2 linked regions of the Homo sapiens genome follow. The protein of the gene in region 1 interacts with the protein of each later gene in a pairwise test. Each region holds a gene or a part of one and is shown on either strand. Other genes may lie near its edges.

What was found.
Region 2: the proteins of EYA4 (region 1) and AATK interact in a two-hybrid assay, tested with the Homo sapiens proteins (one study listed by BioGRID and IntAct).

What each region holds. Positions count from the first base shown.
Region 1 is NC_000006.12:133,244,335-133,251,624, reverse strand, and holds part of EYA4 (protein phosphatase EYA4), read right to left. Parts: intron 1-7,290. UniProt on the Homo sapiens protein: Tyrosine phosphatase that specifically dephosphorylates 'Tyr-142' of histone H2AX (H2AXY142ph). 'Tyr-142' phosphorylation of histone H2AX plays a central role in DNA repair and acts as a mark that distinguishes between apoptotic and repair responses to genotoxic stress.
Region 2 is NC_000017.11:81,116,795-81,121,511, reverse strand, and holds the end of AATK (serine/threonine-protein kinase LMTK1), read left to right. Parts: coding exon 1-1,311; intron 1,312-1,428; coding exon 1,429-1,576; intron 1,577-1,931; coding exon 1,932-2,132; intron 2,133-3,069; coding exon 3,070-3,110; 3' UTR 3,111-4,217; downstream 4,218-4,717. UniProt on the Homo sapiens protein: May be involved in neuronal differentiation.

The sequences.
Region 1 (7,290 bases):
ATAACCAGAGCTTGAAAAACTCTTATTTAAATATACTGAAGAATTCAGGTACAACGTTATCATTTTTAAAACTATACAGATACACCTGGTAGCAGTTCCAGACAAGCTGTAAAAATGAGACCTTGACAATTAATATTTTAACTTTCCTTTTTCCTTCAGCCCCATCCTGCCACATAGCCATTATATCTGAATCCAAGTGATAAATTCTGTAAGTAGAGGTACTAATTACCTCCTACTGTCTCTCTAAAGGTAAGAATCATAGCAATATGTAAAGCTACCTTTTAAAAAGTTTACATTGAGTTCATCAGGCCCACTGACTATTGAAAATTATACAAATTCTCATAATTGGTACCTTACGGCTGAAAAAAAAGCAACTGAGGAAACTTAAATATTGGCTATAAAGTACTACCATTATACAACGTGCTTATAATTGCTTAAAGTAGTTAAGGAACCACACAGATTAAAGCTCTAAAACAATCTAGATTACTGTATGCGGAAATATTTACTAAAAGAAATATTACTGCACAACGTAAATGGCCAATGCCAACTGTTGAGCACCTATAGTGTCTTCTCTTAAGGCTCCAAATACAACCTCAGATTTGCCAAGATGACCCACAGTATCTAATTTATACTTGGACTACTGGACACTCCATTTATGGTCACCAATCCATAGCCCCCCAAAAAAGACCTTCAGCTCTAAATATCTCTGGAACATTTGGGGGTAATCTAATGAAAGATACCCAATCATAGTAATAACAACTGATACTCATATCAAGCACTACTCTAAATATATTTACATATATTTACTCATTGAATTCTCATCAGAACCCCATGAGGCATGTTCTGTTACACATGAGAAACTGAAGCAAAATCTGTTTCAGTAATGTGTTTGATGTTACAAACTCATCAATGTTAGAGCTGAGGTCTGAACCCAAGTGCCTGGCTCCATATTCTTCTTCCTTTTTATTTATTTATTTATTTTTGAGATGGAGTCTCACTCTGTTGTCCAGGCTGGAGTGCAATGGTGCAATCTCAGCTCACTGCAACCTCTGCCTTCTGGGTTCAAGTGATTCTCCTGCCTCAGCCTCCCGAGTAGCTGGGATTACAGGCGCCCACCACCACGCCCAGCTAATTTTTGTATTTTTAGTAGAGACGGGGTTTTGCCATTTTGGTCAGGCTGGTCTCGAACTCCTGACTTCAGGTGATCCATCCGCCTCGGCCTCCCAAAGTGCTGGGATTACAAGTGTGAGCCACCGCGCCCAGCCCCCATATTCTTTCTACTTACTCACTGTGCTATAAGAACTGAGTCTCTCAGATTTCAAGTACTATGAAATTACCGTATCTCCAGAGATTTTCAGGATCCTTGGCTTATCCACCAGATCACTGACTTCCCAGTGGTAAGAAATAAACACATTTCTACATTCACGTATACATACATATAACCTAAGCCTGGATTCACAGCTGCAATTCTACTGGGTTTATACCAAAACTCCCTGAGGTTGTTATTGAGGTAGTCCCACCTTGTAATAGTCACTGCCCTTCTCACTGTTCCCAGTCTCAAGGAGGGGATGTTCAGTGTCACAATCTCTGCTCTCATTCCCAGTACCTCTACTCATTCATTCAATGGGAATATAACAACTACCTACTGACTATATGTCCAGCAGTGCACTGTGCATTAGCGATACAGAAATGACAAATACAGCTAATCCTTCCAGTAAATTCTCAGCTTAAAGCAGGATTTAGACTAATGTAATCTATTACATTTCAATGTGGCAAGGGCTATGTTAAATGTAGAAGCTGGATGCTTTGGGAGTAACAAGAAAGAAACGTTCAACTCAGACTCTGGAGGTCAGAGGAACTTATCAGAGGAGCTAACATTTTGCACCTTAAGTATTGAAAAAGCAGTAGAAAAGATATTTGCAGGGGGAGAGGGGCGATGTTTTCCAGAGAAAAAGCATTCCACGCACAAAGAAATGAAGTGGAAATGTCCAAGGTGTATTTGAGAACTGCAGTTTTCCATACAGCTGGAAAAGAGAGTTGTTGTGAGTGGGGAGTGAGAGATGAGAAGAGCAACCTGAGCAAGGTTCTCAGTATGAAGGGTTATCTTCCCTGCAGAGAATTTTGGAATTTGCCCTATAGGCAGCAGGCAAATTTTTTAAGGAATTTTAAGTCCAGGAGGGACCTCATAAAAATCATGAACAAATGTGGTTGAATATCTTAGGGACGTGAGAGAGTGTTAGAGACAGCTTCAACACAGTCCAGAATGGGCCCCCAGGAGAGGCATCAAGATATTATAACTATATTTGTTATGACAACATTAATACGAACAAGTGTGTATAGGACAATTGTCCACCTAAAGCTAATTTGAATACCTGAGGATTAGACCTGTGACCTTGGTTACAATGATTCTCTCTCTAAATATTCCTGGGAATGGTATGTAAAAATATAAGAATACAATAAAAGCTCCAAAGTCTTCAAAGCCATGCAGAGTAGAAAAGAAATCTATCCATCCCACTCTAATTTTGCAAGTCTTCAGCAACACTGATAAGGAAAAAGCATTTAACAAGCATTTACCAAGTACCCACAACTTTGCTAACCATTTTCATGAACGAAACCTTTAAAAACTAAAGTCAACAATTAAGGGAAAAAACTAGACCTAAATTAAAATTCTTCATGAGTCAACTAAGAAAAATAACAGTACCATCATCTTATCAACTAAAGTTAATGCAAAAACAAACAAACAAAAAAAAAAACAAAATAAAACAGTAGAATTGCCGTTCTTGACAGGTTTATTGAGGTTTGCATGCTTAAGTTACCTACTAGAAGCATTGTTTTAGATTACTGGAAAACCTGCAAAAGGAAATCTGAATGTGATTCACCTACAACGTCATTAAATTTAGCAAGAATGACTTGAGTCATAACCGCACATGAATATACATTTGCATTCAAATGTAAGAGAAAAGAATTAGGTAATGTAGAGATCTGCTGATTCCCCCAAGTCATCATCACTTTCAACATACTGAAAACATTAAGTTAGAAATATTCAATCTCTTAATCAGAACATTCGGTTCTTTTCAAATCTTTTAACATTAGGGAGTTCAAAGTCAGAGGTGAAATGTAATGAATAGATCACTCCGTTGGGTATATGCAGAGGTCTGTGAATTGTATATATGACCTTGTGCATAATGAGCCCTCCCGGTATGTGGTACACCTACTTGATTAGGGATAGAATTTCAAACTCTGTACTGTTGCTTTTGTGAGTAGAATTAAACTTAATGGCACATGAATGTAAATTTTTATGATTTAATTGTAGTCTTTCACAAGAAATGTCCCTTTCATTTTAAAAAGAAAGGGGGAAAGGATAACAGAAATAGTAGCAATAATTTACGTGAAAATCTAAAGTCATGTCAAGTTAGGCCACTGCTGGTGTTTCTTCTTACAGTCTTTAAAGGAGGAAAGATGTTCTAATTAATAAAGTCAACCTTTGCAGGTACAAGTCCTTTGTGCCTCATTCAGACCTGTAACTACACACAGGGAACATTTTGATCAGTTTTAATTTTCTCAGTGCTAAATCGAATTTGAAGACTGGTTAATACGGATACTCAAGTTATAGAAGGGAGAGTAGACACACCTTTCTGCTGATATGTCACACTGGGAGATATTTTACCGTATCTGACAGTCTGTTTTTTAGTGATGCCACATGAACATGTTAGGGCAGGTACTCTGAATTAACCCCTTTTGTCAGAAGACTTGAATTTTTTTGCAGCAGTTTCCATACATTGAAGACACTTAGAGAGAACTCCAGAGGCGGCGGCCACCGTGAGAGGGTACTGTTGGTGAGTCATTCTCAGGCTACCTACATCCTGCTTCACCTAGAGCAGTGGCACATTTCTCTACTGGGCATATCATCAGTTTCCATTTAAATGAAAGGATCCGTGGCTGAGTATATAAGTAAATAAAAAAATGAAAACCACTGCTTCAGTGGAAAAATACTATAAAATTGTAAAACAGGTTATTAACAGCAAAAGTATTTACCTACAGAAAACCTTACACATGCGATAACCAGATAAATTGAATGTATTTCCAAAATATGGGCAGCTCCATTATAATTTAAACCTGCCTCCAGAAGTCCATCATGCACTCTTTAACTCTTCAAGCCTTATTAGTTGGTTCAACATAAATGTGCAGATTTGAGATTCAAAACCAGCATTAAAACAACAAAAAACAAAAACAAAGAAAATACAAAGTTGATAACATTTAACCAATTTGGATAAGGCTTGAAGAGCAAAGGAAGATTCCACATGTTAGTTAAATATTTAAAAGATCTGGTCATAAGTTCTTGATAATTGGGAAACATTACAAAATACAGCATTTCTCCAAATTCAGTCATTTGCTGTCCAGCCTTCATGACTGTGGTTATTTAGGCCATATTCTTGTTCACTGTTACTTAATACGTTTCTTCAGATACTTAATTTTTTTTCTTTGACTTCAATACTTTGTTTGGTCTTGTCTCAAACAATATTGCCCATGAAGTTACAGGTTTAATACAAAATTTAACAAATTTTTCTAATATCTAGTTATCCTTACATAAAATATAAGTATTATTAAAACAAAATGTTCAGGTACCACCTAAAAATGGTGGTATATGACTGATGGAAGCAAGAGCCCAGCACACGCTTAAGGATAAGGGTGCTGGCCTCATACTGGGGAGTTAGGATCCTGGCTCCACTGTGCTGCATGACTGGGTCTCAGCTTCCTTATCTGTAAAATAGGAATAACAAAAGTACCTAATTTACGGCATAGTTAAGAAGATTAAAATTAGCTAATCCATATAAATGCTTAAAACAGTGTTTTGCACGAAATTCCTGAGTAAATGCTAGCTATGATGTTATGATGGTGATAGTGATTAATATTATAGTAATAATGACAGCCAAATTGTAATTATCTAAAGACTACAGTGACCACTTTTATTTAAAAATACACTTTAGGATATAAATATACTCAAGAAAATATGCTCTCATATTTGACATCTACATTAATATATGCCTTGGTGATACAAAAGCTATTCCACATTGGTTTAACGCAATTTCACTTTGAAAATATTCATGTGATAATAGGAATCAGACTTTGCCTAAAAATTATAACCTAAATAAACTACCTGTGCAGAAAAAAAAAAACTAAAAAATTCTAACACGATAGAACATATAGGTCTTTCTCCTACTGTCCAAAAGTACGTTAAAATAAATTTACTTACTGTATGTAAATAAAAGCTTTAAAAATATGAACATACTGTATTAAAACATTTCATATTGGAAAAAAATGAGAATTTCTGGTATTTTAGAATGGTGTCTTTCTTCATCATCCATGCACTGAAATCTCAGGGTAAGAAAAGGGCCAGACCAACTCTGAAAGGTTTCAAATATCAAACTATACTATTGTGTCAGTACCCTAAGATCAATTAGCACCTTTCAATGACAAAAAAGGTTACAGTGAGACTCAGAGGTGCACTCTCTGAAACTGTCTCAAATCACTATATAAATGTGGTTTTGATAACACAAAATGGTTTCTATTTTAAATTAATCAGTTTCATCTCTTTTTCTGGAGGTGTGAAAGGGGTTAGGGGAGTAAGAATAGTAGTGTTCATTTTCAGTATCTCTTTACTAATAAAAAGATGGATGGAGAAACACTAAGAATGACAAATTTCAAGCGTAAAATGACATATCACCAAAGCATATATTAATGTACAGCTCCACAAGCAATATTGAGTGACAGTAATGTTTACAAAGTCTTCAAACCTCTTAAAAGCAATCAAAGTTGCTTGTACTTCTTTTGAATGTGTAACTCTTGTTCATTTTCTTCCACTTAAGTTCAAGCTAAATGACGCCAAGTTTGGCTCCAAAAATGATTTAATGACTATGCAGTGTCCCCTTCATTAAAACACATCTAACTATAAGATGCAGCATTACACATATTGCATCTCACCCATCTCCAGGGCAAATGCCTGAAACAGCATGTCATTTCTTAGTTTAGCAGGAAAAATTCATGAGAGAAGCAGGTACACTGCAATGCCACCCCATTCCCCTGGTGTTGATTTCCTTCACCTAGTAACCATTGTAATAAAATCCCCCAACTGTATTTCTGAATATAATTAGTTTAAGATACTCTACAGGGAGGCACGTTATAAGAGTTTAGCATTTAGTACATGTAAGAATAATATCCATTTAGAAAAAGAAACTGTCAAGATTATATTCTCACTGAAAAAAGAAGAAGGTGTTTTGATAGAGGTTTGTTCAGCTCTTCAATGAGAGGATTCAAAACGTCTCCTACTTTTGATAGCACACTTTTCTATTTATTTCTTAAATAAGTGATCTGAAATATTTACAACCAGACAGTACCTAATTTTAGGTTTTAAGTGCTTTAACAGCTCCATGAAATATGATCAGCAGCTGCAATACAGAACTATGGTGAATAAACTCCTTATAAAGAGGGGCCTGTTTTTACAGAATGTCCAGTGTTCTTGCATTTACCTAACAGAAAAAAATGATAATGAGAAAGCATAATACATACTTGCATTCTTAAATTACTTAACACTTAACTAAGTAGTGAAAAAGATTATCACCCCTCTTCTTGAAATCTGTATAAAAACTGTGAGTTTTTGTGGGGCAAAATAAGTTTGATTATTTGAAAGTTAGAATGTGAACTTCCTAACATTCTAACTTTTTATAACAATAGTCATCGTCTTTCTGTCATTCTATCTTTCTAAAAATCCTAAAAAATCTAATTCCAGTGCATAAAATGTTAAAATGAAATATCAAGCCATATAAATATATTTTTAGACACGACATCAGTCATTTAGAGCTTGCAACAGAGACTGAAAACATGAAATTGGATACTCTATTTCCCGTGGCTATGTAAAATTTATTTACACCCCAAAGTACAACATAAATAAAAAGGAAACTCTTAGAAATGGAGTACTTGTTTTTCCTTTTTTTTTTTTAACCCAAAGAGCCTTATTAAAAGAAAAAAATAAATTATAGCAAAATGACAAGTAACTCATCTGCCAGTCACCCGTCAAAAAAGAAACTTCTATGCAATTTTTTTCTCCAGCTTCTAGAAACCCTCTGAAATTCAGCATCTATTTTTCTTAACAATTAATAATTATTATTCCTTTTTATACAATCACTCCTTTTTATACAAATCTTAAGATTTTAAAAATTTTAAAACTTAAGCCTACTACTTAAAAGAAGTGTTAATTGTGAGTACATACATATATGTGAGACGTTTTATTTT
Region 2 (4,717 bases), on another chromosome or scaffold:
CTTCCCTCGGAGGAGGCCAGTGCCCCCGACGCCCCTGATGCCCTGCCTGACTCTCCCACGCCTGCTACTGGTGGCGAGGTGTCTGCCATCAAGCTGGCTTCTGCCCTGAATGGCAGCAGCAGCTCTCCCGAGGTGGAGGCACCCAGCAGTGAGGATGAGGACACGGCCGAGGCCACCTCAGGCATCTTCACCGACACGTCCAGCGACGGCCTGCAGGCCAGGAGGCCGGATGTGGTGCCAGCCTTCCGCTCTCTGCAGAAGCAGGTGGGGACCCCCGACTCCCTGGACTCCCTGGACATCCCGTCCTCAGCCAGTGATGGTGGCTATGAGGTCTTCAGCCCGTCGGCCACTGGCCCCTCTGGAGGGCAGCCGCGAGCGCTGGACAGTGGCTATGACACCGAGAACTATGAGTCCCCTGAGTTTGTGCTCAAGGAGGCGCAGGAAGGGTGTGAGCCCCAGGCCTTTGCGGAGCTGGCCTCAGAGGGTGAGGGCCCCGGGCCCGAGACACGGCTCTCCACCTCCCTCAGTGGCCTCAACGAGAAGAATCCCTACCGAGACTCTGCCTACTTCTCAGACCTCGAGGCTGAGGCCGAGGCCACCTCAGGCCCAGAGAAGAAGTGCGGCGGGGACCGAGCCCCCGGGCCAGAGCTGGGCCTGCCGAGCACTGGGCAGCCGTCTGAGCAGGTCTGTCTCAGGCCTGGGGTTTCCGGGGAGGCACAAGGCTCTGGCCCCGGGGAGGTGCTGCCCCCACTGCTGCAGCTTGAAGGGTCCTCCCCAGAGCCCAGCACCTGCCCCTCGGGCCTGGTCCCAGAGCCTCCGGAGCCCCAAGGCCCAGCCAAGGTGCGGCCTGGGCCCAGCCCCAGCTGCTCCCAGTTTTTCCTGCTGACCCCGGTTCCGCTGAGATCAGAAGGCAACAGCTCTGAGTTCCAGGGGCCCCCAGGACTGTTGTCAGGGCCGGCCCCACAAAAGCGGATGGGGGGCCCAGGCACCCCCAGAGCCCCACTCCGCCTGGCTCTGCCCGGCCTCCCTGCGGCCTTGGAGGGCCGGCCGGAGGAGGAGGAGGAGGACAGTGAGGACAGCGACGAGTCTGACGAGGAGCTCCGCTGCTACAGCGTCCAGGAGCCTAGCGAGGACAGCGAAGAGGAGGCGCCGGCGGTGCCCGTGGTGGTGGCTGAGAGCCAGAGCGCGCGCAACCTGCGCAGCCTGCTCAAGATGCCCAGCCTGCTGTCCGAGACCTTCTGCGAGGACCTGGAACGCAAGAAGAAGGCCGTGTCCTTCTTCGACGACGTCACCGTCTACCTCTTTGACCAGGTGGGCCGCCGCCACCCGGGGTCTGCCCGGGGCTGGGGGTCGCGCTCCCGCAGGAAGGGGTGGGAGCGGCCGCGGCTCCTGGCGGCCGAGCTACCTGGTGCTCTCTGATTCCTCCAGGAAAGCCCCACCCGGGAGCTCGGGGAGCCCTTCCCGGGCGCCAAGGAATCGCCCCCTACGTTCCTTAGGGGGAGCCCCGGCTCTCCCAGCGCCCCCAACCGGCCGCAGCAGGCTGATGGCTCCCCAAATGGCTCCACAGCGGAAGAGGGTGAGCAGGGGCGGGGCTGGGCCCGTGACGTCACGGGAGGCAGGGCCTGGTCCGTGCTGTGTGGGAGGCGGGGCCTAATGTGTGACATCATGGGAGGAGCACCTGGTCCTTGACGCGTGGGAGGCGGGCTTTGGCCCGTGTCGTCATGGGAGGCGGGTCTGGTACGTGACGTCACGGAAGGCGGGGCCTTGTCCGTGCTGCATGGGAGGCGGGGCCTGGGCCCGTGACATCATGGGAGGCGGGGCCTGGGCCCGTGACATGATGGGAGGCGGGGCCTGGGCCCGTGACTGTGGGAGCGGGGCCGGGCCGGGGTCCCAGGCTGTGAGCGCGAGTGACGCCGCGACCTGGGCTGCAGGTGGTGGGTTCGCGTGGGACGACGACTTCCCGCTGATGACGGCCAAGGCAGCCTTCGCCATGGCCCTAGACCCGGCCGCACCCGCCCCGGCTGCGCCCACGCCCACGCCCGCTCCCTTCTCGCGCTTCACGGTGTCGCCCGCGCCCACGTCCCGCTTCTCCATCACGCACGTGTCTGACTCGGACGCCGAGTCCAAGAGAGGTGAGGCCTGGGCGGGGCTGTGGCAGAAGGGCACGCGGGAGGCAGGGCACGGAGCTCCGAGGGTGGGGCCCCTCCGTCTAGGTCCTGGGCCGGGCCAGCCCCGGCTCCGCTCCGCTCCGCTCCTTCCCGGCCCCGCTCCTTCCCGGCCCCAGACCTAGCCTGGACCCCGCCTGGCCCTCGCCTGGCCCTCACCTGACCCTCACCTGACCCTCACCTGACCCTCACCTGACCCTCACCTGGCCCTCACCTGGCCCCTGCACTCGGCTCTCCTCTGCCTGACCCTACCCCGCAGACCTGCGGCAGGCCCTCTCACCGGAACCTTCCCAGCCAGAAGTCCCTGCAGACCCAGGTCCCACGGTGCCCCGGCCCCACGGTGCCCAGGTGGAGCCCTGCTGGGGGCCTGAGCCACCGCTCCCGGCCATGGCCCTCCACTATCCGCCCCACCCCAGGCTGGGCTCATCTCTGCCAGGTGTCCCTACCCCTACAGCCTCTGCCCACGTGCCTGACAAGTGCCCACCTCCTCGGAGAAGGCCCCCTGCCAGCTTCCTCTTCCCTAGCTGTCCTGGCCTGTGGCTGCAGCCCTGGGGGAAGGGCCTGTCAGCCTCACCCCTGGTGCAGGGTGCCCCCTGTGTGGCTGAACAAGCAGGCAGGTCACCAGGAGGCCACTGCATGACCTTGGCCATCCCCTTCCTGTTCAGGCCTCAGTTTCCTTATGCGTAAAACAGGACTCGGAGGCATTTGCTGAGAGTTGTTGGCCTGAGTCCAGTGACAGGAGTGGGGGAAATGGGTCCATCTCTCACCTAGACACAGCCAGATCTGCTGCAGGGAAGGGGCCCGGCCTGTATGTGGGCCAGGGATGGAGGCCAGGTGGGAGTTGCGGGGGAGGCAGCCCTGGTGTCTCAGAACCCTGTGTTCACTTTGTTGTCCTGCTTGCCAGGACCTGAAGCTGGTGCCGGGGGTGAGAGTAAAGAGGCTTGAGACCTGGGCAGCTCCTGCCCCTCAAGGCTGGCGTCACCGGAGCCCCTGCCAGGCAGCAGCGAGGATGGTGACCGAGAAGGTGGGGACCACGTCCTGGTGGCTGTTGGCAGCAGATTCAGGTGCCTCTGCCCCACGCGGTGTCCTGGAGAAGCCCGTGGGATGAGAGGCCCTGGATGGTAGATCGGCCATGCTCCGCCCCAGAGGCAGAATTCGTCTGGGCTTTTAGGCTTGCTGCTAGCCCCTGGGGGCGCCTGGAGCCACAGTGGGTGTCTGTACACACATACACACTCAAAAGGGGCCAGTGCCCCTGGGCACGGCGGCCCCCACCCTCTGCCCTGCCTGCCTGGCCTCGGAGGACCCGCATGCCCCATCCGGCAGCTCCTCCGGTGTGCTCACAGGACACTTAAACCAGGACGAGGCATGGCCCCGAGACACTGGCAGGTTTGTGAGCCTCTTCCCACCCCCTGTGCCCCCACCCTTGCCTGGTTCCTGGTGGCTCAGGGCAAGGAGTGGCCCTGGGCGCCCGTGTCGGTCCTGTTTCCGCTGCCCTTATCTCAAAGTCCGTGGCTGTTTCCCCTTCACTGACTCAGCTAGACCCGTAAGCCCACCCTTCCCACAGGGAACAGGCTGCTCCCACCTGGGTCCCGCTGTGGCCACGGTGGGCAGCCCAAAAGATCAGGGGTGGAGGGGCTTCCAGGCTGTACTCCTGCCCCGTGGGCCCCGTTCTAGAGGTGCCCTTGGCAGGACCGTGCAGGCAGCTCCCCTCTGTGGGGCAGTATCTGGTCCTGTGCCCCAGCTGCCAAAGGAGAGTGGGGGCCATGCCCCGCAGTCAGTGTTGGGGGGCTCCTACCTACAGGGAGAGGGATGGTGGGGAAGGGGTGGAGCTGGGGGCAGGGCAGCACAGGGAATATTTTTGTAACTAACTAACTGCTGTGGTTGGAGCGAATGGAAGTTGGGTGATTTTAAGTTATTGTTGCCAAAGAGATGTAAAGTTTATTGTTGCTTCGCAGGGGGATTTGTTTTGTGTTTTGTTTGAGGCTTAGAACGCTGGTGCAATGTTTTCTTGTTCCTTGTTTTTTAAGAGAAATGAAGCTAAGACAAAAGAAACCTTTGTGTGTTGTCTTCTGAGGTCTGCCGATGATAAAGTCCTGGACAGGAGGGGCTGTGCCAGGAACCCGATGCCAGCCCTTCCTGGGGCCAGGAGGAAGCTGCCCCTCTCCTCTCCTCCCCACTGTCCTCGGCACACCCCGGTGGAGGGGATGGTGTTCTGGCCCTACTGTGTGTGGGGGCGCAGGGGTAGCGCCCTGCAGGTCTCCCTTCCTGCAGGCCGAGTTGGCCTGGTAGGGACGGGTGAAGAATGGACCTACAGGCCTCTCCAGGACAGCCTCCTCCCTGCCCTTCTGAGGGCAATGTCTGTCTGTCCCTGGGCCCAGGGTGGAAGGCGGAGGCAGGAGAGTTGAGCACAGCTGGGCTTCCCTGCACCCTCCGCTGGCCAGCTCTCAACTGCCCTCCTGGCCCGCCAACTCTACAGCTTCCTGTCCCCGGGGTGTGAGTGGCTGTAGGCGGGAGTGAGCTCTGCTGGAGACACCTCCCCAGCCAGGTAAGGG